4 linked regions of the Homo sapiens genome follow. The protein of the gene in region 2 interacts with the protein of the main gene of each other region in a pairwise test. Each region holds a gene or a part of one and is shown on either strand. Other genes may lie near its edges. The genes, in order: STATH, TLCD4, NDUFA3 and CYP4F22.

Region 1 (7,964 bases), on a different chromosome or scaffold from region 2:
ACCAGGTAAGTTGAACTATTTTTATTCTTTCATGGCCAGTTTCCTACTAATGTCATAGAAAAGGGACAGGAGAAATAGAAGGAAGTAGAGTAGAAGAAAGAGCTCCAGAGAAGTCAAGTGCTTTACCTAGTGATACATAGTAGTAAATGACAATAAAAGCTGGGAACTCATAACATGTCATAGATCTGAAGTTTTGTTTTATAGTTAAAAATAAGCAGCTTTATTTTAGAAAGTGTGTGCTAAATAATTGTATACTAATTTTAAGTTAGTTTTTGCAAGGAATGACTTGAAAATTTCTACTTTGACATCTTCTAATACTTGAATTCCACTCAAGTGCACCTAGTTCATTCCTGAGATTTCTAACTTCAGATTGTCTAGAGCATTACATGTTTAAAGATACTTTTAGAAGCTCTCAGTTCCACATATTTAAGAAGTTCAGTAAAACTTTCTTTTATTTCACACTAAGCTAAATATACTTTAGTGTCTGTAGATGAATAATGACTATTTATTCTAAATCCTTATATAGCTTATGTAGGTTAGTACAAAAAAAAGTTCATATGGAAACATTTAAACATATAAAGCTGTATTCAAGTAAACACCAATATATGCCAGAACACAAGGAATAGAGAGACTCTTGGGATAGGTACTGAGAACATATTCTTCAAATGTCCTGATATACTTACAATCATGGAAACCATGAGAGCCAAGATGAAGGCAAAGACAAGGAACTTCATAGTTGGCTGGGTTCTCTGAAAACATATGTGGAAATTCAGTATCACATTTTTTCTTGCATTCGCCCATCAAAAGTTTATTGATTATACTACGCTCCAAAGCACTGGGAGACACACTCCAGATAGAAAGACAATTAAAACCCATTGCCTGACATCATGAAACTTGGAGACTTGTTGGAGACACTGATAAGTAAAAGTGAGTGTATTGATATGGAAATGCTAAGGCATTAGAGTAACACACAAATCAACACCTTACACAGACCAAGAGAATAGGGGTATGAAGGTAAAGAAGAAAGTAAAGCTTGAGTTGGATTATGCAGGATGAGTAAAGAGGTGTTGGGTGACTGCAAGAAAATGAAAAAGAGGGAGGATACCATATTGAAAGTGCAAACAGTTCAAAATGTAGGGAAGATAAAACTGGAGCAGTTTATCAGAAGATAAAACTGGAACAGTTCAAAATGTAGGGAAGATAGAACTGGATATTATGGGGCGCCTTAAATAATGACATTAGGGATGATATTTAAGGTACAGTGTAAAGAGATGTTTGGATGTTAGAATGACCAGCAATGGGCAATCGCTTTATAATGTTACTGAAAATGAGCCAGATTTCTGTCTTGAGAGTTGCAAAAATGGGGTCACCTTCAGATTAGAACATTAATGATACTGGGTAGAGAACAATCAAACTGATAAGAAGTCACAGAGAAAATATTCGTACCTCCTCTGAGAAGTTGAATTGGTGAAGATGACTTAATATTTTAAATAATCTCATTCAACAAAATTAACCTTATCTGGGACTGTGATATGTTATCATAAACAGTATAAGCCAGTTAACCCAGTTCCTTTGTTATTAAACAAAAAACGTTAGATTATTTATTTGTAAATTATAAACATCTAAATAAAGACATTTTCAGTGAAACACATAATTGCCACAAGAGTTACAAATAAATGACATTTTTACCTGTTTATTGAAAACTATAGAGTAATTCATATAAAGGTAATGGTCTTCATTATTTTAATCTCTTTTACCAATAACTTGTGATAAAACATTACAAGAATATTTTTTACCTAATTATAAAAAAAATTACTGTTATTAATAACCCCAAATCTCCAAAACATAAAGCAGAACTCATGATTTATGGCATTTGCTTTGTTACTTATTCACTGATTTGCCTCAGTTATTCAAACTGAAATTTCTGGCCGGGTGTGGTGGCTCATGCCTGTAATCACAGCACTTTGGAAGGCCAAGGTGGGCAGATCACCTGTGGTCAGGAGTTCAAGACCAGCCTGACCAACATGGAGAAACCCCGTCTCTACTAAAAATAATAATAATAAAAATTTAGCTGGGCATGGTGGTGAGTGCCTATAATCCCAGCTACTTAGGAAGCTGAGGCAGGAGAATCACTTGAGCCCGGGAGGTGGAGGTTGCGGTGAGCCGAGATTGCACCATTGCACTCCAGCCTGGGCAACAAGAGCGAAACTCTGTCTCAAATTAAAAAAAAAAAAAAAAAAAAAAGGAAATTTCTGGTATTAGAGTAAGTGTAAAAATAATATGTACTTTGGGGTTTTTCTATCACCTGATAGATAAACCTACCCATCAGTCATTTTATGATGCAAAAAGCATAAAAACTTTAGTGTATTTTATACCTGTAAATTTTATTGAAAGTATGGAATCAAAAAATGCTCATAGAAGAGTAGTTTTGTTTTACTAACCTTGATAAACTGAAAGATGGATATATAGACATAGATATATAAATATATATGTCATGGTTTTAAAAAAATATTTCCCCAATGAAAAATAATAAAAATATGAAATAGTAAAATCTTTGTTTTCTGCCATATCACAACTGAATGAAAACAACTTAAGTAATATAAAACAGTAAGGCAGTAAAGCATGACTGTTATACAACATTTTTTATTATGCAGAATGACATAACTGTTTAAAATGATGGAAAGGTCAATGAAAAGGTAGTGAGAAATGTTTACTTATGGGAAAAAAGTAAATTTTTAAAAGTTAAACTTGTGAAACAATATATACATTTGCAAAAAAGAGAACGTATGCTATTTTCTTAAAATATGAACTTCGAATAAAGGTAAAAGTAGTAAGTAGCAGAGTAGATGCCAGTACGTAGACAAGGAAATAAAAAGCTTTTCAGAAGTTCCATCAGGAGAGAAGTTGGAATATGTCTCCATATTCCACATTATTTACTTTGCATGATGATTGCTGATTTCAATGTATAGTTATTCAGATTCTCAACTTACCTTCAGATCCTAAGAAGGTCATCATTTCTCTCAATTGTTTCTTTATGAGAAATTATCATTACATAAATACACATTTTTATAATTAGTTTTCAAAAGATTTTAGGAAGCAACACTCTAGATTAAGACAACATATTCGATTATACATGAACATATTACCTTTTACTCAAGATGAGACTACAGAAGTAGTGAAGTTGAAGTGAAGCTTCAAGAGATGATGTGCTACCCTAGAGGGCCAATGTATTTAAACACTCTGAAGTCCCCCATTTGTTTTTGTTAAATAATGGCAATTATGAGATCACATTATGGAAACTAAAAGTAATGCCCAAAATCTGTCTCTACAAATGATAAAAATAACCGTAACAAAGTGATTTTGCAATAGATGATTGTGAAGACAAAGTAACCAGGAAACAACTGTACCCACTGCATGTTAATCCCACTGTTAGTCTAGCGCTGAGTGAGTCAGATGACAGAAAAGCATGCTGGAGGAAACCAGGCATAGAAATAATTGCAGTGATAAAGATGTTTCCACAAGTATGTGTCCAAGGTGGAACAACTCTATGACACAAATAATACTTACCATGTTATCAAGATTTTACATGTTCTCTGATAACTCGTGGTAACTGGCATAATAAAATTACAGTCTTCATATACTTCAAGAGTTTTTCTTCAAATCATTATTTATCTCATACTTTTACCATCTTCTATTGACTTTAGAATATTTTAAGTTACAAAGTGAACGTAAACATTTGCCAAATTCAGTAATCTTTTGGGTACTATATGATAAAAAATTATTATATTTATGGTGAAATGACTCTAAGTGCTCACTGATACATATCTCACATATGACTGAATATATGTATTTGGAAATTCAATTTAATTTCCTGGAGTTTTTAAGGCTACATATTTTTCCATAGCAGCCATGTGTTGACATGATTACACTAGAGTGAAGGAAAAAATGTTTTCATTACATTCCTAGGAAAATTTGTGTAAAAATTACCCTACTCACTGCTGGTTGGATAACTCAATGTACTAAGAAACGAATATCAAAAACTTATATATAAAGTTGAGGTAAGTTATACAGCCTAGTGCATTGTTCCTCAGAGTGTGCCATATGGGAACATCACAGACAGCATCAGCTGGAGCCTGTGGAAATGTAAATTCTTAGTCCACCTTCGCAAACTTGCTGAGTCAGAATCTTGGGGTTGTCCTAAGGCGTTTGCATTTTAACATTATCTCCAGGTGATTCTTTGGGTACTGTGAAGTTTGAAACAAGGCTGGTCTCAGTGGCTCATGTCTGTAATCCCAGCACTTTGGGAGGCCGAGGCAGGAGGATTGCTTGAGCATAGAAGTTCAAGAATAGCCTAGGCAACATAGTGAGACCCGTATCTCCACAAAAACATAAAAAAAAAAACAACCACATATTTGTCTCTTGAATGCATTAGTTATCCTTAGGCTTTAACCAGTAAAGATAATTTGTGGTTTAATTTTGTATCAGATTTTTTAAGGAAGTATTTATTAGGTAAATTTTTATGCTGTATTGGAACAGCCTTACTGGAAATTATGATTACTCTCTGGGTAATATACAAGAAAATATAAATCATTTCTTAAGGCAAATAAATAATTCAAATTAAATTAGATAGATATTATTCTTATTCTTTTGTCATGAGATTTATAAGCATTATAGATACAAAGTTTCTTCTCATGTGTAAAACAAACACAATCTCTTTACATTCTGAGTGGAAAAAAGTTACATAGGGTTCAGTAACTATTTTATTTTTCCAGAGATGGGGTCTTGCTGCATAGCACAGTCTTGAGTGCATTGGTGAGATCATAGTTCACAGATGCCTGGAACTCCTGGGCTCAAGTGGTCCTACAACCTCAGCCTCATGTTTAGCTGGGACTACAGACATGTGTTATCACTCTTGGTTAATTTAATTTAAATTGTTTTTGGTGGAGACTTGGTCTTGCTATGTTGCCCATGCTGGTCTTGAACTTTTGACCACAAAAATCCTTCTGCCTTAGCCTCCAAGTAGTGCTGGGATTGCAGTCATGAGCCATTGTGCCTGGCCCATGGTTCAGTAACTACTGAACTATATCTGATTTTAAAAATAAACTGCTTCGATTACTTGGGGAAAGTCAAATGATTTTCTTCTTTTCTTCTTTCTTTCTTCTCCCTCTCTTCTCCTTTCTTACCTCTGGTTTTCTTCACCACTTCATTTATCCAACAATACTAGGTACTGTTCTAGTAGATCTAAGGTATTCATGTTCTAGTGAACATAAAGCAAACTAATAGCCCAAAGGCACTAACAAACAGCAAACTACATGGTAAGAAATATTGATACATCTTAATATACACACTTTAAAATTACAGTTAAACTTAACTCATCTACATGTTATGTTGGAATACCAACATGTAGGCATTAGTCCACCCATCATTTTCTGCTTCCCCAAGTTAGGAAGTGTGGGGATTATGTATGATAGGTCAAACAAGGATAGCAGACTAGAAACAAAGGAGTGACCTTCTCGTGTTAGTTATGGTCCCACCCTCCAGGAAGAGCAGACCAATTTAGAAGACTGATGAACCAGAACATGACTTCATATTTTATAATTAAAGAAAACAGATATCTTATCCTCTATGCCAAACACTGTTCTCTTTGAAAATGTCATGACCTTTCGTTACAAAGGAAACATCAACAAAGAACTACTGCTTTATCACAGGTGAGGCAATACAATTTTTGCTTAAGGATACAACCCATGAATGGGTATTTGTAGTGATGTTTATGCTGGGCTCTCCTCAATCTTGCTTCTCTATCTTCTTTACTGCCGTCTCCTTCTCCTCTTCCTCTTCATCCTCCTTGTCTTCCTGCTGCTCCAGTTGCTGCTCCTCCTTCTCCTTATTCTGCAATTCTCTTATGATGGAAACATGAAACCATTTATGACCAATATCCATGATATTTATTTATTTAACTAAAAATGTTATATTATGTTCCTGTTTGAATTACTAAAATGACATATATGATTGACAAATGCTGAACAACATATGATAATCTACTAGATAGATAGAATGTTGTTTATTCTGGAGACATGACATGAGAAGCTTTACTCTTGTTCTTAAGGAGTTTACAGTATAATTTGTGAATCAGACAAGGATAAAGGCTAAGACAGAGAAACCCAGGAAAACATGAGTCTAAAATTGGGAGAAGAAGGTCAACAATGGAGTTGCAGATTGGGCACTTATCATCTTATTGATTGTAATCAAACTATGAGATTATTACAGCTTATACAATCAAGATGTGTAGAGTCAGAAGAGAATAGGCTGAGGACAGATATCCTGCTGAGCACTGATGTAATGTGTAAGAGAAAATAGAAAGTCTATGAAAAAAATCTGTGATGGAAAAGAATAGCAGAAGAGGTATTTCTCGGCTGTTTGTATGTTGTGGAAGCCAAGAGGATGAAACATCAGGAAGGAAATGTTAATTACCATGTTGCAGTGACCTTATAGGTTGCTTAGTTTGCTTTATGTCTTTAAACTAAAATTTTCTTATTTATAAAATGTTACAGTAATACGTGAAACTTAAAGGAGAGTATATAAAAATCACATTGTAAATTAAAATGACTCAAATGCAAATATTAGATTCTATCATTATTATAATTTTCATCATCATAATCTTCATGAAAAAGAACATCTTAATTTTTAAAATTCTCCAAGTATAAAGGAGGAAATACAAAACCAGGAACAACAGGAATATATCTCTGGAAAAACATTAGAATCATGTCAATGATCAAGATGTTGCAGAGAGTTACAAATCTGGTCAAGTATAGATTAATTTATAAACAAGTGAAAGTAGAGAGCTTAAATGGGTTAGATCAAATGGGCTCAGTTTTTAATTCAGAGTAGATTGTTTTCTGGAACTGACTACAAGGTAAGATGAGTTGGATATTTCAGAAAACTTAATGATACATTTGGACATTTTATTGAAGGGAAAGGGTGAGAGCTATAAAACTAAATACAAGAATATTATTTGCTTAGCAACATTGTATGCCACATTTATAAAACATAAAATAAATTCTTTTCTTTGTACATTTGCGTTTTCTTGGTAGAGATGCAGTGTAAGAAGATTTAACAATTAGTAGGATTGAGATTTTAGCAAATATAATTAATCAAATTCAGACTTCACTGGAGTTGTTTGAGTTATTGAAAGTATGTACTAAATCATAAATATTAAGTTGTAGGTTAGGAGAATATGGAAAAAAAGAATGAACAGGTAGAACAAAAGGATGTAAAACTATTAAGGGCCAGCAGGGTTCTGTAATGCCAAAGTAAGGGATCTATGCTTCAACCCTTGCCTCCCTTCCAAAATATAAATCAGATCAATGCCTGATCCAATGGCATTTATCTCAATCCAAAGGCTATCTTTGACCTATGGCGCTTCAATCATCTCCTCACCTCTTTTCTGTAATATAGTTTATTTTAATCCACATCTTTCCTTCTCTATTCATGCTGTTTTCATTAGAGTTTTCCCAAACGCAATAAATGTATTTCTACCACAGTAGAATGCAGCCCTGCTATTTCTTCTGCTGGATTTTTTTTTTCATGCTAACTTATGAACATAAGCACTTCATATGTTTTCTAAAATGCCACTGTGCCAGAGAAGCTTTTCTTGACCATCCTATTTTAAATTGCCTCTTTGCCTTAGTCCTGCCTTCTTCATCTTTAGCACACTTATGATTACTTGAGATACTATGTATTATTTTTTCACTTGTTGTTTCTATCTCCCAACTACAGTGTAAACTGCCTGAAGGCCAACTTTCATCTCTCTTAGACCTTGCTGCATGTGCAGTATCTAAAGAGGGCCTTGTCAGGCCATCGAGTGTCACTCAATGTATAAATGAAGGAAAGTAATTGCTGACAAACTCATGGAGAACATTGTTGTGTTCTGAATTCTTGCCTAAAGCTATGGAGTGACATGGGGG
Region 2 (7,317 bases):
TTTAATAGGTGTGCATAGTATCTTGTTGCTAAAATTTGCACTTTCTTTTTTTTTTTTTTCTTTTTTTTTGAGACAGAGTCTCACTCTTGTTGCCTAGGCTGGAGTGCAATAGCACGATTTCGGCTCACTGCAACCTCTGCCTCCCAGGTTCAAGAGATTCTCCTGCCTCAGCCTCCCAAGTAGCTGGGATTACAAGAATGCGCCACCACACCCAGATAATTTTGTATTTTTAGTAGAGATGGGGTTTCGCCATTTTGGCCACATTGGTTTCTTTTCTTTTCTTTTCTTTTCTTTTTTGAGATGGAATCTTGCTCTGTCGCCCAGGCTGGAGTGTGGTGGTGTGATCTCGGCTCATTGCAACCTCTGCCTCCTGGGTTCAAGCAATTCTCTGCCTCAGCCTCTGAGTAGCTGGGATTACAGGTGCCCGCCGCCATGCCTGGCTAATTTTTGTATTTTTAGTAGAGACGGGGTTTCACTATCTTGGCCAGGCTGGTCTTGAACTCCTGACCTGATGATCCACGCTCCTCAGCCTCCCAAAGTGCTGGGATTACAGGGGTGAGCCACTGCGCCTGGCTGGCCAGGCTGGTTTCAAACCCCTGACCTCAGGTGATCCACCTGCCTCAGCCTCCCAAAGTGCTGGGATTACAGGCGTGAGCCACTGCAATTTGCACTTCCTAATGACAATAGTGAACATCTTTTTATATGCTTAGTTTTCATCTATATATATTTTCTGATGAGGTTTTTGTTATGCTCTTTTACCAGTGTTTTAATTGGGTTGTTTTCTTATTGTTGACTTTTAAGAATTCTTTGTGTACTTTGTATACATGTACTTTACCATACATGTATATTTTAAATATTTTTTCCTAGTGTGTGGTTGTCTTTTCTTTAACAGTGTCTTTCGCAGAGCAAGTTTTAATTTTAACGAAGTCCAACTTAACTAACTTTTTCTTCCATGGATGACACTTTTGGTGTTGTATCTAAAATAGCACCACCAGATGCAAGATCATACAGGTTTTTTTCCTTTTTTCTTATGGAAGTTTTATAGTTTTGCATTTTACATTTAGGTCTATGATCCATTTTGAGTTAATTTTTGTGTAAGGTGTGAGATCTCTGCTTAACTTCATTTTTCTCGATGTTGATATACAATTTTGCACACCTTGTTGAAAAGACTTTTTTTCTCCACTGAATTACCTTTATGCTTTTGTCACAAATCAGTTGAGTATATTTGTGTGGGTCTATTTCTGAGCTCTCTTTTCTCTTCCATTGGTTTATTGATCTTTCACTAACACCATGCTGACTTGATTACTGTCGCTTTATAGTTAAGTCTTGGAAATGGGTAGTGTGAGTCCTCCAACTTTGTTCTTTTTCAGCATTGCGTATGCTATTCTAGGCCCTTTGCTCCTCCTTCACTGAATTTTAAAATTTAAAAACTAAAATAAAAATGGTTAATCCTCAGAGATGCACTATAAATGTGATGTTTCTTTAATTCATTTTTCAGGTGGTTCTTTGAAGCTCTGAAGTATCCCAAGTTTTCTAAAGCTATCGTTATCAATGGAATACTCATGACAGTAGTATTCTTCATCGTGCGGATTGCCTCAATGCTTCCTCATTATGGCTTCATGTATTCCGTGTATGGAACAGAACCCTACATAAGGCTTGGAGTTTTAATCCAGTTATCCTGGGTCATTAGTTGTGTTGTTTTGGATGTGATGAATGTCATGTGGATGATCAAAATTTCAAAAGGTTGCATCAAAGTCATCTCTCACATCAGACAAGAGAAAGCCAAAAATAGTCTTCAGAATGGAAAACTTGATTAAAAGAGTGCTACCGATAAGCAAACTTCATTACTACCCAGCATATCTGCTGATAGGATGAATTCTTGGCATGTTCTTGTGTACCTTTCTTAATTATAATTGTTATTCAGGATTTCAGTGTCATTTTTTTTAAACCTTAGAAAAGAGAAGGCCGGGCACGGTGGCTCATGCCTGTAATCCCAGCACTTTGGGAGGCCAAGGTGGGTCGATCACTGAGGTCAGGAGTTCGAGACTAGCTTGGCCAACATGGTGAAACCTCATCTCTACTAAAAATACAAAAAAAAGTAGCTGGGCGTGGTGGTTGGCGCCTGTAATCCCAGCTACTCGGGAGGCTGAGGCAGGAGAATCGCTTGAACCCGAGAGACGGAGGTTGCAGTGAGCTGATATTGTGCCACTGCACTCCAGCCTGGGCGACAGAGCAAGACTCTGTCTCAAAAAAAAAAAAAAGAGAGAAACTAAAATTAAAATTTAGTTTTCATCCCAAGATGTCTTTTCTGCCTTTCTTTTGCCTTATTTACAAGCATGGATAAAAATCTTAAAGGTTTAAATAAAAATGATCAATATAATGGTGAATCTTTTGAGAAATCTCTTAACTGCATTGGTATTTTTTCTCTGTGAAAGATGACTATGATAATCTGGTACAAATGGTTTTATGTCACCAATTTTGCTGCAAGAATGGGAACTGCTTTTAAATCTGTAAATAGCTCTTAACATTTGTTGTATGCACTCTTTTCTTACTATGGCTGTCAACACTTGTGTAGGGTTTAATTTCTAAATTGTTGGCATGTTCTTTTTCTCAGGCTATTCAGAAGTAACAACATTTTTCATTTCAGACATGCAATCACCTATTAATGATGAAATATTTTACCACTTTGGGAATATTTAATTAGTTTAGTCATGGAGAATACTTCCCACATTTTAAGATTTTTTCAAATATCACTGTCATTTCTATTTTAGCATTTTATCAAATTATTGCTTTTTTATTTTATAATAAGGCTTAAGACAGATTATAGACCTCCTTAAGAGATGAGTTTCTTCTTCTAAAAATGCATGTTGATAGAGGACTATTTAGGCTAATCGGAGGAATCATTAAGAAAGAAAGTTTTAACACTGTTTATCCCTATCTGCTTTCCTTGCACTTTTTCTGTGAAAAATATTTTCTGTTTGCAAAATCTTCCCTGAGTTCTGAACCCAGCACCATCAGTACCAAAGTCTTATGCAATATGTATTTATTATGCTCCTGAAATAGGCCTCTTCTTGATGAGACCCAAACTATTACAAAAATATCAGTATTCATATTTTACTCACAATTCATACCCGTGCTTACTTAGTTGGCATTTTAGTGCTTTGAATTTCTATCTTAAAGCACAGAAAAAAAAAGGTAATTTAATCCAAGTATTCTATCATCAAAATTATTGTCTGATTATATGAAGATAAATGACTGGCGACTCTGGTTGTGTGTGTATGTGTTTTGCTTTTACTTTAATTCTTGCAATCCAAATATAGAATTATATATTTATCTATTATTGCCTTTATTCTTTAAGCACTTGAGTTTAATGATTATTCTTACCTGAGAAAGGAAGAAATTTAATTCTACCAGTGATGAATACTTGAAATTAATTGAACTCATACCAAAAGATGTAATCCAGTTTCTCAGTTTGAAGGAGAACGTTTGACTCACTTTCATTGTTCATGCTAGCTGAATATAATCAAGACTTTTGATTTGATTTGCTTTTATTATTCAATGCAGATAGAGCCTGATAAGTTTTAGAACATTTAAAGAAGATTGAAATCTCAGTCAGTAACTAAATGATAAAATGAGATTGATTGGCTTATACTAGGTACATTTATTTTTGAAAGAATTAATGTAAAATAATAGTTATTTTTAAAGCAGCTAATATTACACTGATAATTTGTTGCTAAATTTAGTGCTGTCCACATCATAGGTGCTTAAATATGTACTGGTTAACTAGAGGGGGGTAGGAAAGCAAGCGGTTTTATCTTGTTCTTACCTTTTTGCAGGAAAAGTGGCTTTAAAAAAATTTATATAATAAAACTATTTTGGAAATTCATTCTTTTAGAAAGAGACCTTGAGATAAATATTTTTTGACTCTGGATATTTCTATAGTTCTGAACACAGATTTTAAACCCACTATCAAAATGAAAACAATATAAAGCTATATTAGTGAGTCTCCATGTAGCAGTTTGTTTTTATAGTTACTGTTTCATGCTTAAAACTTCATTCTTACTTTCATTAATGTTACCCTTCACTGGTATAGCCACTCACTAAATAAGTATATTTAAAACATCAAAATTTTGAACTAAAGTTTGTGATTCTCTTATTCAGCAATCCTTATCTTATGCTGGCTGCATGAGTTAATTCAACATCCAGATTAAATATCCTGAAGTAGGTTCTATATATTTCCTCATACAACAGACATGGAATGGAAATGCCACTAGAAACTGCCCTGCTACTTTTAAGTCTGACCTTTGCAGGAGGTACACTTTGCTGTTCTATGATTGTATTCACCTACCTAAAATACAAATGAAGACAGAACATATCATTTACTGCACGATGAATTTTTCATTTATTAAATGAAAAACGTTTGCTAGACATTTTAAATATTAAGTATTTTGACTACACGGATTAATTTAAATGATTCTATCAGGCATTCTGATATTTAACAACTCTATTAAAATATTTATAGAAAAATAAAAGCAAATTGATATAAATTTTTGAGCAATTCTATTTTTGTAGAAAAAAGATAACCTGTAATTATAAAGATGTTTTTTGAATGTGTAGTATCCTAGAAAATAAAAGTTCTTGTGAAACTTAAAAAATGAATGAAAACCAACTAATAGCATGCAAGATCATAGATCCTGCATTAAATTTTTATTTGTGAAAATTTGAAAATTATGAGCTATAACTTATAAAGTTTGCCTTCTTATGTCTAAAATCTTTTAAAGGATTATTTGCATTTATGTAAAACTGGAAATGAAGTTATATATGAGTGCAAAGAAATTGACTTCTGCTCAAATATGTGTTGATACCCTACAGTAAATTGAATTAAATTTTTATCCCAACTGTTTGATTTTATTATTTCATGGACTAGCCTTACGTTAAGTGAAATACTATTTATGTTGTTACCACCCCTAAGAGTGACTCTGATATATTATGGATGACCCAGGACGGTCTTAAAGGTCTAGTTTTAAAAACTGCCTAGTTTGTAAGTATTTGAATCCAGTTCTTTTCTAAATTTTAATAATTTGACTCAAAATTTTTGCTACAGGGTCAACTTTTAAATTGTATATTTCCTCTGAGGCACACTGGGCATTTGGAGAATGGTTCTTCACTGGTGTAGAGAGCCAGGTTTACTGTTGGTTGCACCATCTGTTATCAGGCATGCAGAAACATTTTTCTTCTGGAGAAACAGAGGGGAAGGTGTTGTTACAGTGTACATGTTTCCTCTGTGTCGTTTTTAAGGGAAATAAACATGTTCCAAAAGATGCTGTTAAAATAAATATTTGAACACGTTTTCTGTTTCTAGGTTGCTCTTAATTCCAAACATTTAAATAAATGTGCATTTGAATAGCTTTAGGTGGTTTAGTCTATTAGCTGAAATGGAAAAGTTCATGTATTGACATCATCAATAATACTTCATAAAGGTTTATGTATTTTTATGTGTTTGGATTCCATAAGAAGTTGAACTTAGATAATTTTATCAAGAGTAGCACAGTGTTTCTCAGGTGCGAGCCAGCATACAGCGAGACCCTTCATGTGTCTCTGGATGCACATATATCTTCCCAACCTTAAACACAGCTCATTGAAATACATTAAAGCTACTGAAAGTGAGTTCTGATGCAAAACACATGTGAGGTGTGTAGGAACAATGAAAAGCTAGAGGATCTGGAGTTAGAGGAGGCATTGAGAGTGCTTTTCCCTTAAACGCCGTGATAGTCCTCCCTTGATCTAGAAGTATTCTCTTTGAATCCTTCCATCTCTTCCTCCTGGTACACCAGATGACTTCATCAGCATCTCCCTCTTTTATGCTAACACCTTTCGCTGTCAACTTTTGAGACCTCCCCATGTATCTATAAGCTTCCCAGTCTCTTATGGCAAATTTAAAAGTTTACAAATAGGTTCTCTCATTGAAAAAAAGCATTGTAGTAAAGTTTAAAGTGGAGCTCAGACAAATCATGACTTATTAAGAGACTACAGGAAGCCATTCAGCATTTAATAATAACTGTTTACAACATGAGGCAAAGCTAATAATGTTATGGTTTTATTAAGAGATCTGTCATCTCTGTTTTTCTTAAACTGGTTTAACAGTCAGAGCTTTGTAATGTGTTTCAGCTGAAGATTTATTATAGGCTTGTAAATTATCTAAATGTTCTTTTTAGACCCCATGACAGGAGCACAGAGGAACTGAGATAACTCTGTGTTATGAGAGGGTGGATGCTGGCTTGTGCCAAAATTATTTTAGAGTCCTGCTCTTTAGGGAAAACTTTGCTATGGTAATGTTTCTTTGAAAACAAATTTACCAGCAACTGCGTTACTTGGTGTTTTCCAAAGTACAACATCCAAGGCTTGAACCTTACCCGTTTCTAGGCCAGACTAGGCCAGCCTCTAGTTTTGATAATAATTCATACCTTTATTGGAATATATTTTGGATAGCAGTGAAGAATTGAAAGCAGCTCCTAAAGATTGGTTTGTTTGCTTTGAAAATGTTTACACTTATTCACTCTAAGCAGTGGACCATTTTGATATCAGGCCCTATACATAAGACCAAAACCAGAAATATTTCTAAATCTCAAAGATTTATAAGTACAGTACCTCTGGCTGAAAACTCGTTAAACATCTTTGGATATTTTTTCTTTATATCTTTATGTAATTATTTCTGTAATTAAGTGTACATTAGGGTTATTTGCTACTTAACAAGCCTAAAGGTATAGCTGTATATAGAATGTGCTCTGTGTTTTTCTGTTTCCTGCTTGGTTTGTTTCTGGTATGACTATGTCTACTTTTTATTTAAGGAATTTTGTGTAGATAATACTCTCACTAACTTGTAAATAGGATAAGTTATGAGATTTTTTGGTATTAGAATTTGTAATAATAATGACTTTTAGATTTTATTTGAAAAAGCTACTTGGAAAGCAGTAAATAGAACTATAGTGATATATATAGATACATAGATATATACTTTTTTCTGAGAATGTATAATATATAATTGTCAAAGATTTTTGGAAGTCTTTCAAAATATACTTAATACCATTTTGAGAACATACCTTCTAATTTATTTCCATAAGGCTGAAGAACTTTTATTTACAAAATGTAAGACTAGATAATGTATGAATCAGTGTTACTAGGACTTATCAGTACTTAAAATAGCAACTTGGCATTCTTTATTTTGTTTCCTGGTTGTTTTATTTGGAGGGATAATAAATGTCTAAGTTATTTCCATTAAAATTTTGAAATGTTTGTATACTTTATGTGTGCCATTTT
Region 3 (7,817 bases), on a different chromosome or scaffold from region 2:
AAGACCCTGTGTTTCTTTTTTTTTAAACTATAAAAGTATTCAAAAAACTATAGGAAAATATATTTGTCTTGGGGTAAGGAAGGCTTCTTAAAATATAAAATAAAAAGTTGTATGGAAGATTAATTAATTTGACCACTTCAAATTTCTTAAGTTGTGTATGCTAAAAGACAAAACTAGAGGACAAATGATAGTACTGGCAGATATCACTTATTCACAAATCACACAAATTAAGAGTACAGGAAGGCTGTTGGGTCCGGTGGCTCACAGCTGTAATCCCAGCACTTTGGGAGGCCAAGGTGGGTGCATCACCTGAGGTCAGGAGTTCAAGACCAGCCTGACCAACATGGTAAAATCCCATCTCTACTAAAAACAGAAAAATTAGCCAGGCGTGGTAGTGCTAGCTTGTAGTTCCAGCTGTTTGGGATGCTGAGTAGGAGAATTACTTGAACCCTAGAGTCGGAGGCTGCAGTTAGCTGAGATCATGCCACTGCACTCCAGCCTGGGCAACAGAGTGAGAACTCCATGGTGGCATGCACTTTGGGAGGCTGAGGCTGGAGGATTGTCTGAGCCCAGGAATTCAAAGCTGCAGTGAGCTATGATAGAGCCACCGTACTCCAGCCCGGGTGACACAATGAGACCCCATCTCTAAAAATGAATAAAAATAAGGGTCGGGTGAGGGGGCTCATGTTTGTAATCCCAACACTTTGGGAGGCTGAGGCAGAGGGATCACCTGAGGTCAGGAGTTCCAGACCAGCCTGACCAACATGGGGAAACCCTGTCTCTACTAAAAATACAAAAATTATCCGGGCATTGTGGTGTGTGCCTGTAGTCCCAGCTACTCAGGAGGCTGAGGCAGGAGAATCCCTTGAACCCAGGAGGTGGTTGCAGTGAGCCGAGATTGCACCACTGCACTCCGGCCTGGGCGACAGAGAGAAACTGGTCTCAAAATAAATAAATAAATAAATAAAATAAATAGGTAGAGATAGCTATAGCGACACTGAAATATCTCCAAAAGAGTTTTTTTTGTTTGTTTGTTTGTTTTTGAAGTGGAGTCTTGCACTGTCACCCAGGCTGGAGTGCAGTGGCGCGATCTCAGCTTACTGCAACCTCTGCCTCCTGGGTTCAAGCGATTCTCTTGCCTCAGCCTCCTGAGTAGCTGGGATTACAGGTGCGTCCCACCACACCCGGCTAATTTTTTTTTTTTTTTTTTTTTTTTAGTAGAGACGGGGTTTCACCACATTAGCCAGGATGATCTCGATCTGACCTTGTGATCCGCCCGCCTCTGCCTCCCAAAGTGCTGGGATTACAGACGTTGGCCATTGCGCCCAGCCCAAGATCCTATTTCTTAAGCCCTGTACTGTGCCAGGCTCAGGGTTTTGCACATGTGATTTGATGAGATCTCACAGCGGCCCATTTTACAGAGAAGGAAATGGAGTCTTAGCAAGCTGTGACTTGTTCTAGGTCATATGGTCACATATAAATGAATACGATGGTGAAACTGAGGTCCTAGCTTAGGCCTCTGCCTCAGAAGTTCCTGGTCTTCAGTACTCACCTATAATGGCCACTAAGGGGAATGAGAAAAGAAGGAAGGAATGGAGGGAGGGAGGAAAATAAGGATATCTGGGATGGGATTGGGCACCAAAATAAAATCTGAGTAATTGGAAAAGGGGTGTCAGCAACAAAAGGAGAGTGGATGGGGTGGCTACTCACCAGACGGAGTGATGTCTGTGTGACACAGAGGCCCTGTAGGAGGTTGAGGGACTAGTTTCTTTTTCCTTTTTTTTTTTTTGTCTGAGGCAGAGTCTCACTCTGTCGCCCAGGCTGGAGTGTAGTGGTGTGATCTCAGCTCACTGCAACCTCTGCCTCCCAGGTTCAAGTGATTCTCCTGCCTCAGCCTCCGTAGTAGCTGGGACTACAAGTGCCCGCCACCACACCAGGCTAATCTTTGTATTTTTAGTAGAGAGGGGTTTCGCCATGTTGGTCAGGCTGGTCTTGAACTCCTGTCCTCAGGTGATCCACCCGCCTCGGCCTCCCAAAGTGCTGGGCCTCGGCTCCCACAGGCATGAGCCGCTGCGCCCAACAGCGAGTTCTTTTCAAAACCCTTTGTGGCCAGCCCCATCTCATTGGTAACCCAGGAATCTGAGTTCCCAGCTCCTATCTCCTCTGGGAAATGAGAATCTTATCCCTCCCTCCTCCTGTCTCAGTAGGCAGAAATTTGGACATCCATTGCCCACCTACCGAAGAAGTCTGAACGCAGACCCCTCTGGCCTGGGCAACCAAGAGTTCAGGCCCTTGAACTCCACCTTTCCAGGGAACAATGATCGTAGAGTTTCTCCTCTCACGAGTTCAGGAATCTGGGTCCCCATTTCCCTCTTCTCTCAGGAGCTAAGAGCCCTGTTCCCAGCCCCCTTTTCCCAGGGAATCAGGAGTCCTGGCTTCCATCCCCCTCCCATATAAGAATCTGGGAGTCCTCCCTGTCTCCTGACCTCTTCCTGCCTCAAGAACCAGAGATACCTGTCCCCACCTCCTTCCTCTTTCGGGAATCTGTGTTCTCTTGCTTTAGGACCCAGGGGTCTGGGCCCCAGCCCTGTTCTTTATTTGAACCTAGAATCCCAAACCTGCTGCCTGGTCCCCCTGCAGGGTGTCTGGGTCTCCATTGCCTCTCTCTCTGCCCCCAACCCCAGCCAGGAACCCAGGGAGAAGAAAGGGGTGACTCACAGAGGGTCAGCAGCTGGAGGATCAGCACCAGGGCCATGGTGGGCAGATACCCGCTAGAGCTGGAGCCAGGGCTTGGTCGCACCCTCTCCCCTCCCAGGAAATGAGGCAACATCAGAAAACCAGACCCAGATCCTCATTTACGGAAGAGAGTATCGAGGTGGGGGCCTGTGGGTGACTGTGTCATAGCCCTATGGCACTGTGGAAAAATTAGCAGGGGGTTCAGTCATAACCTGTGGTGTTCATTTATTTAACTCTAGAAACAAATACTAGTCAGGAGGTGGAGGCAGGAGGATCGCTTGAGCCCAAGAGTTCAAGAGCAGCCTGGGCAACAGAGCGAGACCCTGTCTAAAAAATAAATAAATAAATTGTGCCACTGCACTCCAGCCTGGGTGATAGAGTGAGACCATGTCTTTAAATATAGATAGACAGATAGAAAGATATCTGTCTGTTTTAAAAATAAGAACCTATTATGTGCCAGACTCTTGCTGTCATTGATTGACAGATAGATAAAAATTTGCACCTATTATGTGCCAGGCCCTTGCTGTGATTGAAAGATAGATAGATGGATGGATGGATAGATAGATAGATAGATAGATAGATAGATAGATAAAAATTAGCACCTGTTAAGTGCCAGGCCCTTGCTGTGATTGATTGATGGATAGATAAAAATTAACACCAATTATGTGCCAGGCCCTTGCTGTGATTAATTGATCGATTGATAGATTGGTTGACAGAGAAAAATTAGCACCTATTATGTGCCAGGCTCTTGGTGTGATACTGTGTTAGATAGATAGATAGATAAAAATTAGCCCCTCTAGGCCGGGCGCGGTTGTTCACGCCTGTAATCCCAGCACTTTGGGAGGCCAAGGCGGGTGGATCACCTGAGGTCGGGAAGTTCGAGACCAGCCTGACCAACATGGAGAAACCCCCGTCTCTCCTAAAAAAGAAAAATTAGCCGGCTGTGGAGGCGCGCGCCTGTAATCCCAGCTATTCAGGAGGCTGAGGCAGGAGAATCGCTTGAACTCGGGAGTCGGAGGTTGCTGTGAGCCGAGATCGCGCCATTGCACTCCAGCCTGGGCGACAGAGCTAGACTCAATCTCAGAAGAAAAAAAAAAAAATTAGAACCTATTACGTGCCAGACCCTCGCTGTGCCATGTTGGCAGGCACAGAGGGAACTCAGACTCCGTTACTGCTCTCAAGCAGCAGCTACCAGTCCGACTGAAAGACCAAGACCAGGTCAGTTTCTTTTTTTTTGAGACGGAGTCTCGCTCTGTCGCCCAGGCTGGAGTGCAGTGGTGTGATCTCGGCTCACTGCAAGCTCCGCCTCCCGGGTTCACGCCATTCTCCTGCCTTAGCCTCCCCAGTAGCTGGGACTACGGGCGCCCACCACCACGCCCGGCTAATTTGTGTTGTATTTTTAAGTAGAGACAGGGTTTCACCATGTTAGCCAGGATGGTCTAGATCTCCTGACCTCGTGATCCGCCCGCCTCGGCCTCCCAAAGTGCTGGGATTACAGGCGTGAGCCACCGCGCCTGGCCCAGACCAGGTCAGTTTCTTAAGTGATCTGAGCTATAATGGCGGTAACAGAGCACTGTGAGAGCCCGCAGAAAGCTCCTAACCCATCTGGGATGAGACCTAGCGCTTCCAGGACGAGCCGATGTTGAGCTGAGACCTCGAAGGACAGGTTAGTCATTCACCTTCTCCCGGGCTCAGTTTCTTCGTCTGTAAAATGGGCTTTCATACATAAACTATAAAATGGGGACTATTTTGTTCCGCCTTAGGTGGGTCGCAGCAGGAGGACTAGTCACTCCGGAGCGACTTCTAGGCTGAGACTAAGGAGATTCCACGCAGGTCCGCAAAGTCAGGCTTGCGCTTGCTCCTGACACCACTTCCTTTACCTCCACGGCTCCATCTTTGTTCTGCGCGAGTGCGCACGCGCAGGCTCCGAAAGCGGGCCGTCGCACAGAGGGACCACAACTCCCAGAGTGCTCCGCGTCCTTGCTTTCGCCTCTACTTGTGCTCCAGGGCGCACGCGCAGCCCTGGGAGCGGGTTCTCGCGCATAGGGACCACAACTCCCAGGGTGCTCCGCGTCCTCGCCGCTGTCGCCGCCGCGGAGACAAAGATGGCTGCGAGTAAGTGCAGGTGCCGGTGGCGCACGGGGCTCGGGTAGTTCTGGGAACCTCTGGGCGGTCCTGGGACTGAGGTGCGGCAGGGCAGGGGTGGAAGCGATGGGGTCCGTGCTGGAGGGGAACGCAGAAGTCACGAGGGGGCTCCTCCAGGGCAGGGGTGGCACGAGAGGGTTAGAGGTCACCGGGGGCAGCTACTTGCAGGGGTGACGCTTCTTGCCACCCCTTCAGGAGTCGGCGCCTTCCTCAAGAATGCCTGGGACAAGGAGCCAGTGCTGGTCGTGTCCTTCGTCGTCGGGGGCCTCGGTGCGTGAGTGCTCCAGGCGCAAACTTGCATCGTCCACCCCCGTCCCCCTACATCCCTCCATCTTGTACCCCTAAAGCCCTATCGCCGCCCTCGGGTCCCCTCTAGTGTGTCTGCACCCCCACGGCATCCCCTTATCTATCCCCATACCCATTATAACCTCTCCACCATCGCCCCCCGCGTTCCTCTCCACCTACCCAATACGCTCTTAACCCCTCTAAATGAGACGTTCTCAACCCTGCTTATGCCTTAACACCTGAGCACCAAAAAAAAGTCCAGATCCTCCTCCTCCTTTTCATCTTTCCTCTCCCCCATTCTGAATTGAGTTGGCTTGGGTGGAGGTGGGACTGGGGAATCTGTGTCTTGTGAAAATCCCCGTATGATCCCAATGTGCCTTGCTGATTGAAAATCTCTGCCCTCTGCCCTGGAACTGCCCTACTCACACTTTAATTAGCACCGGAGTTCCTGCAGGGATGGGGGCGGGGGATTGTTAAAATGTAGCTTTTTTTTTTGCGATGGAGTCTCACTCTCACCCAGGCTGAAGTGCAGTGGCGCGATCCCGGCTCACTGCAACCTCGGCCTCCTGGGTTCAAGGGATTCTCCTGCCTCAGCCTCCCGAGTAGCTGGGATTACAGGCGCCCAGCTAATTTTTTGTTTTTGTTTTTGAGACTGAGTCTCGCTCTGTCGCCCAGGCTGGAGTGCAGTGGCGCGATCTCGGTTCAGTGCAAGCCCCGCCTTCCGGGTTCACGCCATTCTCCTGCCTCAGCCTCCCGAGTAGCTGGGACTACAGGCGCCCGCCCCCATGCCCGGCTAATTTTTTGTATGTTCAATAGAGACGGGGTTTCACCGTGTTAGCCAGGATGGTCTCGATCTCCTAACCTCGTGATCCTCCCAACTCGGTCTCCCAAAGTGCTGGGATTACAGGCGTGAGCCACCGCGCCCGGCCAGCTTTTTTTTTTTTTTTTTTTTGAGATGGCGTCTCGCTCTGTCTTCCAGGCTACAGTGCAATGGTTTGATCATGGCTCACTGCAACCTCCGCCTCTAGGGTTCAAGTGATTCTCCTGCCTCCGCCTCCCAAGTAGCTGGGATTACAGGCGAGCACCACCACGCCCGGCTAATTTTTGTATTTTTAGTAGAGACAAGGTTTCACCATGTTGGCCAGGCTGGTCTTGAACTCCTGACCGCAAGTGATCTGCCTTCCCAAAGTGCTGGGATTACAGGGGTGAGCCACTGCGCCCGGCCAAACTGTAGGTTCTGATTCTGTAGGTCTGGGGTGGGGCATGGGATTCTGCATTTTTGAAGAGTTCCCAGGTCTTGTCAGTACTGCTGGTCCACCAGCCAGGCACTAGGTTAAGGTTCTGAACACTTATTCAGTATGGCAGCCACCAGCCACAACTGGCCACTGAGCATTTGAAGTGGTGCTGGTATGAATTGAGGTGGTATAAGACACTGGATTTCAAAAACTTAGTATAACAGAGTGTGTAAACTACCAATAATCTTTTGTTGATTACATGGCGAAGTGATGTTTTGGATGTACTATGGTTTTTTTTGTTTGTTTGTTTTTGTTTTTTTGAGACGGAGTTTCGCTTTTGTCCAGGCTAGAGTGCAATGGCCTGATCTCGGCTCACTGCAACCTCCGCCTCCCGGGTTCAAGCGATTCTCCTGTCTCAGCCTCCTTAGTAGCTGGGATTACAGGCGCATGCCACTACACCTGGCTGTTTTTGTATTTTCAGTAGAGACGGGGTTTCATCATATTGGTCAGGCTGGTCTCGAACTCCTGACCTCAGGTGATCCACCCGTCTCAGCCTCCTAAAGTCCTGGGATTATAGGCATGAGCCACCTCGCCCATCCAAGTATGTTTCTTAAAATTTGTTTCATCTGTATCTCTTATTTTTACTGTAGCTACTAGAAGATATAAAATTATATACCTGGCTCTTACCATCTGTCAGACAGCACTGGCCTAGAACATTCCTTTTATGAACTGTACCCCATCCCCCAGGACTCCTGGCTCCCACCCTAAATGGACTGTGGTCAGTGACTGTTGTTTGTGCAACCCTTTCTCCTCCAGTTTGTAAGGCTTTTTTTTTTTTTTTTTTTTTGGTGATGGAGTCTCTCTCTGTTGCCCAGGCTGGAGTGCAATGGCACAATCTGGGCTCACTGCAACCTCTGCCTCCCAGGCTCAAGGGATTCTTCTGCCTCAGCCTCCTGAGTAGCTGGGATTACAGGCTCCTGCCACCACGCCCGGCTAATTTTCGTATCTTTAGTAGAGATGGGGTTTCATCATGTTGTCCAGGCTGGTCGCGAACTCCTGACCTCAGGTGATCCGCCCACATTGGCCGCCCAAAGTGCTGGGATTACAGGCTTGAGCCACTGTGCCCGGCCAAATTTGTAACAGTCTTGATTTCTCCAGAACAGTCCCATGACACTACCCCCAGGATGCTCCATGATGACCCTACACTCAAACGTGCTCATTCCATGACCAACCCCACTGCTGCCTCCTCCAGGCCCCACGTATCTGTGAGTGTTAGGCTCCAACCCCTACCTCCACTTAACCCCCCAAAAAAGAGTTTTAAACCCTCCTGTCTATAAGTAGGGATCCCAAGGTACCAAGGATCCTCCTGGACGTGCTGGCCCTCCCTGCTGCCCTCCCCCTGCGCACTTTATCTTC
Region 4 (7,317 bases), on a different chromosome or scaffold from region 2:
CTAAAAAACAAAACAAACAAACAACAACAACAACAAAACAACTTAGAAGTCCCCTCTCAGCTCCAGCCTTCTGGGGTCTGGCACTTTGGGGGAATATGTGAGTCTCTGGGGTAAGCCAGCCCTCTGATGTTGAGGAAGCCAAGGTGGCACCATGAATCAGTGGGGACGGGGGCAGGCTGCCTTGACTACAGGCTTGGAGTGAAAAGGAGGGCTGGGATTTGGGGTGATGGGGCCAGCGTTGGGGTGCTCTTCCATCAGGCTCCTGGCTGGTCCCAGCCCCTGCAGTTCAAGAAGAGGCATGTATCTCGTACCTGGCGTCGGCCTGGGTCCGTGCCCTCCACTCCTTCTTGGGAGCCCACACACCTTGTATAACAAGTCCTCAGTGGGTGAACGGCTGGGCCAACCTGACAAACCAGCGCGACCTGGGCGTGGGCCGGGACACGGAGCCAGTCGCTGGCTTTCACCACCACCAGATAATGCGGGCCCTGGCAGGGCAGGGCCACCTCTACCAAGGCGGGCCTGCTGGATGAGATCGGGGGCCGGTGTAGATAGGGAGTGGACATGCCAGCCGCCCACAACATTCTGAGGGTGTCACCTTTGAATTGCTCTCACTTCTATCAAATAGCAATAATAGGAGTAGTCATCATGGCTAACATTTTGTGAGCTACGTGACAAGGCCTTTCCATGCCTCATTTCACTGAGCCGTCCCAAAAACCTTAGGGGGTAGGTCCTGTTATTATCAACCCATTTCACAGATTGGCAAAGGGAGGCTGATGGCAGGGACTGGGTTCACCCAAGGCTGCTAACCTAGGGAATAGGAGAGCTGAGATTTGAACCCAGGCCTGTTGAAGTCAAAAGTGAACATTAAATTAAATTAAATTAATTTTAGTTTTTGAGATAGAGTCTCACTCTGTCCCCCAGGCTGGAGTGCAGTGGCAAGATTTTGGCTCATTGCAACCTCTGCCTCAGCCTCCCAAGTAGCTGGGGCTACAGGCATCCACCACCATGCCCAGCTATTTCTTTTTTTCTTGGTAGAGACAGGGTTTCATCATGTTGCCCAGGTTGGTCTTAAATTCCTGACCTCAAGTGATCCTCCCTCCTCAGCCTCCCAAAGTGCTGGGATTACAGGCATGAGCCACCATGCCTGGCCTGATTTTTTTGTTTTTTAGTAGAGACGGAGTCTCACTATGTTGCACAGGCTGGTCTCAAATTCCTTGGTTCAAGTGATCCTCCCATCTTGGCCTCCCAAAGTGCTGGGATTACGGGCATGAGCCACTTCACCTGGCTGATACCTTTCCTCCATTATCTAAACTCCATAGTTTACATTAGGATTCACTCTTTGTGTCATGCAGTAAACTAATGAATTTTTATAATTGATTCAATTTTTTTTGAATGGGTGACATGTGCTCATGGTATAGGAAACCAAAACGACTGGAAAAGTGGATAGTAAACTTAAGTTTCCCTTCCACCCCTGTCCCGAGTTCTTTCAGGCCCTTTCCAGAGGCTGCCACCATTTTTCCTGGGTCCTCAAAGCTTTTCTCTCTCTCTCTCTCTCTCTTTTTTGTATTACCATTTATTGGTGACAAACACTAAGTTTTACTCGCATTCCATGAGGAGAAAAACTCCAGTGTAAACGATGAATGGAGGCAGTACTTAACTCGCAGGGGTACCAGGCTTTCCATATGGACCACACACAGAGCCTCAGTGCACACACTTCTTTTTTCATTTTTATTTTTTTGAGACGGAATCTCGCTTTGTGACCCAGGCTGGAGTGCAGTGGCATGTTCTCGGCTCACTGCAACCTCTGCCTCCCGAGTTCAAGCGATTCTCCTGCCTCAGCCTCCTGAGTAGCTGGGACTACAGGCGAATGCTGCCACGCCCTGCTAATTTTTTGTATATATATATATTTTTTTTTTTTTTTTTTTTTGAGACAGAGTCTCACTCTGTCACCGAGGCTGGAGTGCAGTGGCGCGATCTCGGCTCACTGCAAACTCCGCCTCCCGGGTTCACGCCATTCTTCAGCCTCAGCCTCCCGAGTAGCTGGGACTACAGGCGCCCGCCACCTCGCCCGGCTAATTTTTTTTATTTTTAGTAGAGACGGGGTTTCACCGTGTTAGCTAGGATGGTCTCGATCTCCTGACCTCGTGATCTGCCCGCCTCGGCCTCCCAAAGTGCTGGGATTACAAGCGTGAGCCACCACGCCCAGCCTAATTTTTTTGTATTTTAGTAGAGATGGTGTTTCACCGTGTTGTCCAGGCTGGTTGCGAACTCCTGAGCTCAGGCAATCCGCACCCCCCTCGGTCTCCCAAAGTGCTGGGATTACAGGCGTGAGCCACCGCACCCGGCCCAGTGCACACACTTCTGTGTATAGTAACACAACATCAAAAGCAACACAACTGTATAAAGAAACATAGGTCATACTTTTCAGCCCTAATCGAGATGTAATTAATAGTATCGAGCACTCTGGAAAATCAGTCTGCAGTTTTATGTGAACTATGTGGAGATCATATCCTGTAGTGTAGTGAAAGCTAAGTCCTCAAGAGCCGTATGTATAGACACATGATTTTCTTAAAGAATATTTAAAATGGAGATCAAAGTTCATTTGTTTAAGTCCTGTTTGCATTAACAAAAATAAAAATAAAATAAAAATGGAAGCAAATGATCATCTAAAGTTTAAAATTCCTAAATTGTCCAATTTATACAACTGTGGGAGACTTATTCAAGGTTTTTGAAAGTCCAGGACTGTTTCAGCTGAACCATAGGGCACGTAATTTGCATCACTGAAATGGTGCTGGGTTAGTCAATGAAATAAAAATGTCTAACTACATACACGTGGATATGATCTTTGTCGGTTAGATTATTGATAAAGTCAGTCTCAGAAAAGTTTCCAAACTGTGCGATATAATTAGATACAGTTGAGAAACTCTCAAATGAAAATTTTATATAGTGTCGTCGGGCACGGTGGCTCATGCCAGTAATCCCAGCACTTTGGGAGGCCGAGGCGGGTGGATCACGAGGTCAGGAGTTCAAGACCAGCCTGGCCAAGATGGTGAAACCCCGTCTCTATTAAAAGTACAAAAACTAGCTGGGTGTGGTGGCCCAGCTACTCGGGAGGCTGAGGCAGACAATTGCTTGAACCTGGGAGGCAGAAGTTGCAGGGAGCCAAGACTGTGCCGTTGCACTCCAGCCTGGGTGACAGAGTGAGACTTTGTCTTGAAAGAAAGAAAGAAAGAAAAAGAAAGAAAGAAAGAAGGAAGGAAGGCAGGAAGGAGGAAAATTTTATATAGTGTCATACCAATAAAAAGGAAATAATGAAACTAAGAATACAGATCACTGTTGGAAGAGAAAGCAGTGGTGATGGTGTGGGCACTGCAGGAAGTGGTGGGGCCGTGGCACACTAGAAGTTAGGTCATGCTGAATAGGAAGCATTTGACTTTCTCTGGTGCTTTTAGCTCTGGGGCTGGTTGAAGGCCTCTCTCTGGTGTGGCTGTCCAGGGTTTGTCCCAACTAAGCCAGCTTGAGAAGGGGTCATGCTTTCAGTTTCTTCTTTCACACGGGAAAAAAAAGACCAAACAGGAAGGTGCCCAGGGCGTGGATCTGCTGGTGCCCCAGGAGAGCCAGCTGGCTGGGCAGCCCTTCTTCCCCAAAGGCAGCTGGTATTGCGTAGGGACAGCCAGGTCACCGAGTGGCCGTCACAACAAACCCCAGCACAGTCCAGCCCGGCCACAGCCACCTCCCCTGTTGTGTTCCCTGCTGCTGCCCACATCCTTTACCCACCGTCTCTCGGCCCACTAGAGGTATCAGAAATTCCAAATTTTCAAAGCAGTTTTAATATTTTCAGTGTATATGTTGGGATTTTATAATGGTTCATGGCCAGAAAAGGTTCAGCACCTCCCACACACAGACATTGATCCATTTCCTGTTCTTGGCATCTCTGTACTTTGTTGGTCCAACTCAGACAGCAACTTTAAGGTGTTCAGTGCAGCTGGCCAGGCACGGTGGCTCACGCTTGCAATCCCAGCACTTTGGGAGGCCGAGGTGGATGGTTCGCCTGAGGTCAGGAGTTCAAGACCAGCCTGGCCAATATGGTGACACCCCGTCTCTACTAAAAAGTACAAAAATTAGCCAGGTGTGGTGGCGCATGCCGGTAATCTTAGCTACCCAGGAGGCTGAGGCAGGAGAATTGCTGGAACCCGGGAGGCAAAGGCTGCAGTGAGCTGAGATAGCACCACTGTACTCCAGCCTGGGCAACAGAGCGAGACTCTGTCTTTTTTTTATTTTCTTTTGAGATGGAGTCTCGCCCTGTCACCCAGGCTGGAGGGCAGTGGCGCGATCTCGGCTCACTGCAAGCTCTGCCTCCTGGGTTCACGCCATTCTCCTGCCTCAGCCTCCTGAGTAGCTGGGACTACAGGCGCCCGCCACCACGTCCGGCTAATTTTTTGTATTTTTAGTAGAGATGGGGTTTCACCATGTTAGCCAGGATGGTCTTGATCTCCTGACCTCGTGATCTGCCCGCCTCAGCCTCCCAAAGTGCTGGGATTACAGGCATGAGTCACCGCGCCCGGTCGAGACTCGGTCTTGAAAAATAAAAAAGAAAAAGAAAAAGATGTTTAGTGCAGCCATATCATAGCAGGACTCAACATCCTTGCCAATACTATGTGTTAGATATAAGAGAATAAGTACATTCTATGTCTTTGTACTTTAACCAAGATATTTGTACTAGACATGCTCACAGGCACATAGTACATTCTACGTCCTTGTACTTTAACCAAGATATCTGTGCTGGATGTGCTCACAGGCATGTCCCAGCTCGCAGCCCATGCCCTTTCCTTATTTGGAAATATTATTGCTTTTCTAAGTCCTTTTGTAAGCAACTTCCTCTTTTCCTTTGCTCTCTATTGCCTTTACCTATTTAGGAAAGTTTTAAATTATTAGCCAGTCAGGTTTAATTTAGATTGTGAGGTCTTGCTTCAGCCAATGGAGACAGGACACAGTAGCAAGGACAAACTGCATAAGGGATAAAAATTGCTTCCCTCCTTTGTTCAGGTGTGCTCTCGCCATTATTCCATCTGCAAGGAGCACCCTTTATGCAGAAAGTAAAATTGCCTTGCTGAGAAAACTTATTATCTGAATGCTGATTTTTACTTGCAGTACCGAGGAACAAGCATTCTATTTCTGAATAAACATTTTACTTATAACACTATGGCTGATCAGAGGCGGCTGAGAGGAGCAATGGATAAGAGATACAAATTCATTCTTGTTGTTTTTGGGGAAGTCTTTGTATTCAACCTGGAATCCCTGGACTCTGGAAAGATAGTCCACTTGCTCAGAGGATCTCATGAGAGGTCCATGGGGTACGTGGCCTGAAGAGATGTTATTCTTTTTTTTTTTTTTTTTTTGAGACGGAGTCTGTTGCCAGGCTGGAGTGCAGTGGCACGATCTTGGCTCACTGCAACCTCTGACTACCTGGTTCAAGCGATTCTCCTGCCTCAGCCTCCCAAGCAACTGGGATTACAGGCACGCATGGCTGATTTTTTGTATTATCAGTAGAGAAGGGGTTTTGCCATGTTGGCCAGGCTGGTCTTGAACTCCTGACCTCAGGCAATCCGCCCACCTCAGCCTCCCAAAGTGCTGGGATTACAAGTGTGAGCCACCGTGCCCGACCTCAAATGATAATTCTAGGGTTTCCCCACAGTGGCTGCACTATTTTTTTTTGTGGGTGCCAGACAGAAGTGTTCTTGTTTGAGGGACAGGAGGACCCCAGCTGTGGAAAGTATAGGACTTCCCCAATGTACCTTTCATGGTGGTCTTCCCATGGGCATCTGGTGGACCTCTTGTCATGATTCCCATTTTGTAGTGGAGAAACTGGAGGCTTCCAGAGAGTGTCCCAACTGGGGACTCACAACATGTGGTCCTGCCTGGGGGCAGAGCCAGGGGTTGTTTGTCCTGGGAAGGACTTCAGCCCATGTCTGGTAGGGGGACGGGGAGGTGAAGCGGACACAGGGCTCCACAACTCCCCTCTCTCACCCTCCCCAAGCACCCATCTCCCCATGTACCCAGCCACCTGGAGCAGGGATCCCTCTCTAGGGCTGGCACCTTCTCTTATCCCAATTCTTTCCCATTTCATTCATTCCAGAAGACATTTCCTTTGTTGAGATTTCAGCTGGGATTTTCCTGGGTGCGAGTTGGGGGCTCTAGCTGTGATTTCACTCAGAAGTCTTCCAGCTCTCTTTAAGGCTTACTGGGAAGATGGAGTGAATGATAGTGAAAATCATCACACATAACAGGCACTCAATGATTCTTTGGAGAGTGATCTAGGGGAGGTGGCTGATTGTGGTGCAAAGGAGTGGACCATCAGGGCAGAGCTGGGGTTGGAGGATGAGGAGCTGGTGTGGGCACAGCTGAGGAAAGGAATGTGGATGGAGGGAACAGAATGTGCAAAGGCTCTGAGACGGGAAGTTGCTTGGCCTGTGGAAGGAGTGGCCTGGAGCAGCCTGAGGTGAGCAAGTGAGGAGGAGGGTGGTGGGAGACAGGGCTAGAGGCATCAACAGGGGTAAGCCATGTAGGTTGTTGTGGTCCATGACAAAAAGTCTAAATTTAGCTGGATGAGGTGACTCATGCCTAGAATCCCAGCACTTTGGAAAGCTGAGGTGGGAGGATTGTCTGAGACCAGGAGTTCAAGACCAGCCTGGACAACATAGCCAGACCCCATCTCTACCAAGAATTTAAAAATTAGCTGGGCATGGTGGTGCATGCCTGTAGTCCCAGCTACTGGGGAAGCTGAGGTAGGAGGATCTCTGGAGCTCAAGAGTTTGTGGCTGCAGTGAGCTATGATTGCACCACTGCACTTCTGCCTGGGTGACACAGCAAGACCCTGCCTCTAAAAGAAAAACCGTGATAAAAGGCCGGGCACGGTGGCTCACGCCTGTAATCCCAGCACTTTGGGAGGCCGAGGCGGGCGGAACACGAGGTCAGGAGATCGAGACCATCCTGGCTAACACGGTGAAACCCCATCTCTACCAAAAATACAAAAAAAAAAAAAAATTACCTGGGCGTGGTGGCAGGCGCCTGTAATCCCAGCTACTCAGGAGGCTGAGGCAGGAGAATAGTGTGAACCCGGGGAGCGGAGTTTGCAGTGAGCCGAGATCGCGCCACTGCACTCCAGTCTGGCGACAGAATGAGACTTTGTCTCAAAAAAAAAAAAAAAAAAAAAAGAAACAAAACAAAACACAGAAAAAAAAAAAAAAGAAAAACCGTGAAAACAAAAGAGTCTAAATTTCATTTAGAGCAAAGTGGGGAGCCATGGGAGAATTTTGA

The links.
Region 1: the proteins of TLCD4 (region 2) and STATH interact in binary tests that used the Homo sapiens proteins (3 or more experiments, as listed by UniProt).
Region 3: the proteins of TLCD4 (region 2) and NDUFA3 interact in binary tests that used the Homo sapiens proteins (3 or more experiments, as listed by UniProt).
Region 4: the proteins of TLCD4 (region 2) and CYP4F22 interact in binary tests that used the Homo sapiens proteins (3 or more experiments, as listed by UniProt).

Annotation. Positions count from the first base shown.
Region 1 is NC_000004.12:69,991,208-69,999,171, reverse strand, and holds the start of STATH (statherin isoform a precursor), read right to left. Parts: upstream 3,207-7,964; 5' UTR 3,147-3,206; intron 750-3,146; 5' UTR 735-749; coding exon 684-734; intron 1-683. UniProt on the Homo sapiens protein: Salivary protein that stabilizes saliva supersaturated with calcium salts by inhibiting the precipitation of calcium phosphate salts. It also modulates hydroxyapatite crystal formation on the tooth surface.
Region 2 is NC_000001.11:95,190,052-95,197,368, forward strand, and holds part of TLCD4 (TLC domain-containing protein 4), read left to right. Parts: intron 1-1,498; coding exon 1,499-1,817; 3' UTR 1,818-7,317.
Region 3 is NC_000019.10:54,098,038-54,105,854, forward strand, and holds the start of NDUFA3 (NADH dehydrogenase [ubiquinone] 1 alpha subcomplex subunit 3), read left to right. Parts: upstream 1-4,817; 5' UTR 4,818-4,841; coding exon 4,842-4,851; intron 4,852-5,076; coding exon 5,077-5,151; intron 5,152-7,817. Other genes in the region: OSCAR (osteoclast-associated immunoglobulin-like receptor isoform 1 precursor), read right to left, coding at 1,553-1,564, 1,711-1,743, 2,719-2,755. UniProt on the Homo sapiens protein: Accessory subunit of the mitochondrial membrane respiratory chain NADH dehydrogenase (Complex I), that is believed not to be involved in catalysis. Complex I functions in the transfer of electrons from NADH to the respiratory chain.
Region 4 is NC_000019.10:15,511,456-15,518,772, forward strand, and holds part of CYP4F22 (ultra-long-chain fatty acid omega-hydroxylase), read left to right. Parts: intron 1-7,317. UniProt on the Homo sapiens protein: A cytochrome P450 monooxygenase involved in epidermal ceramide biosynthesis. Hydroxylates the terminal carbon (omega-hydroxylation) of ultra-long-chain fatty acyls (C28-C36) prior to ceramide synthesis.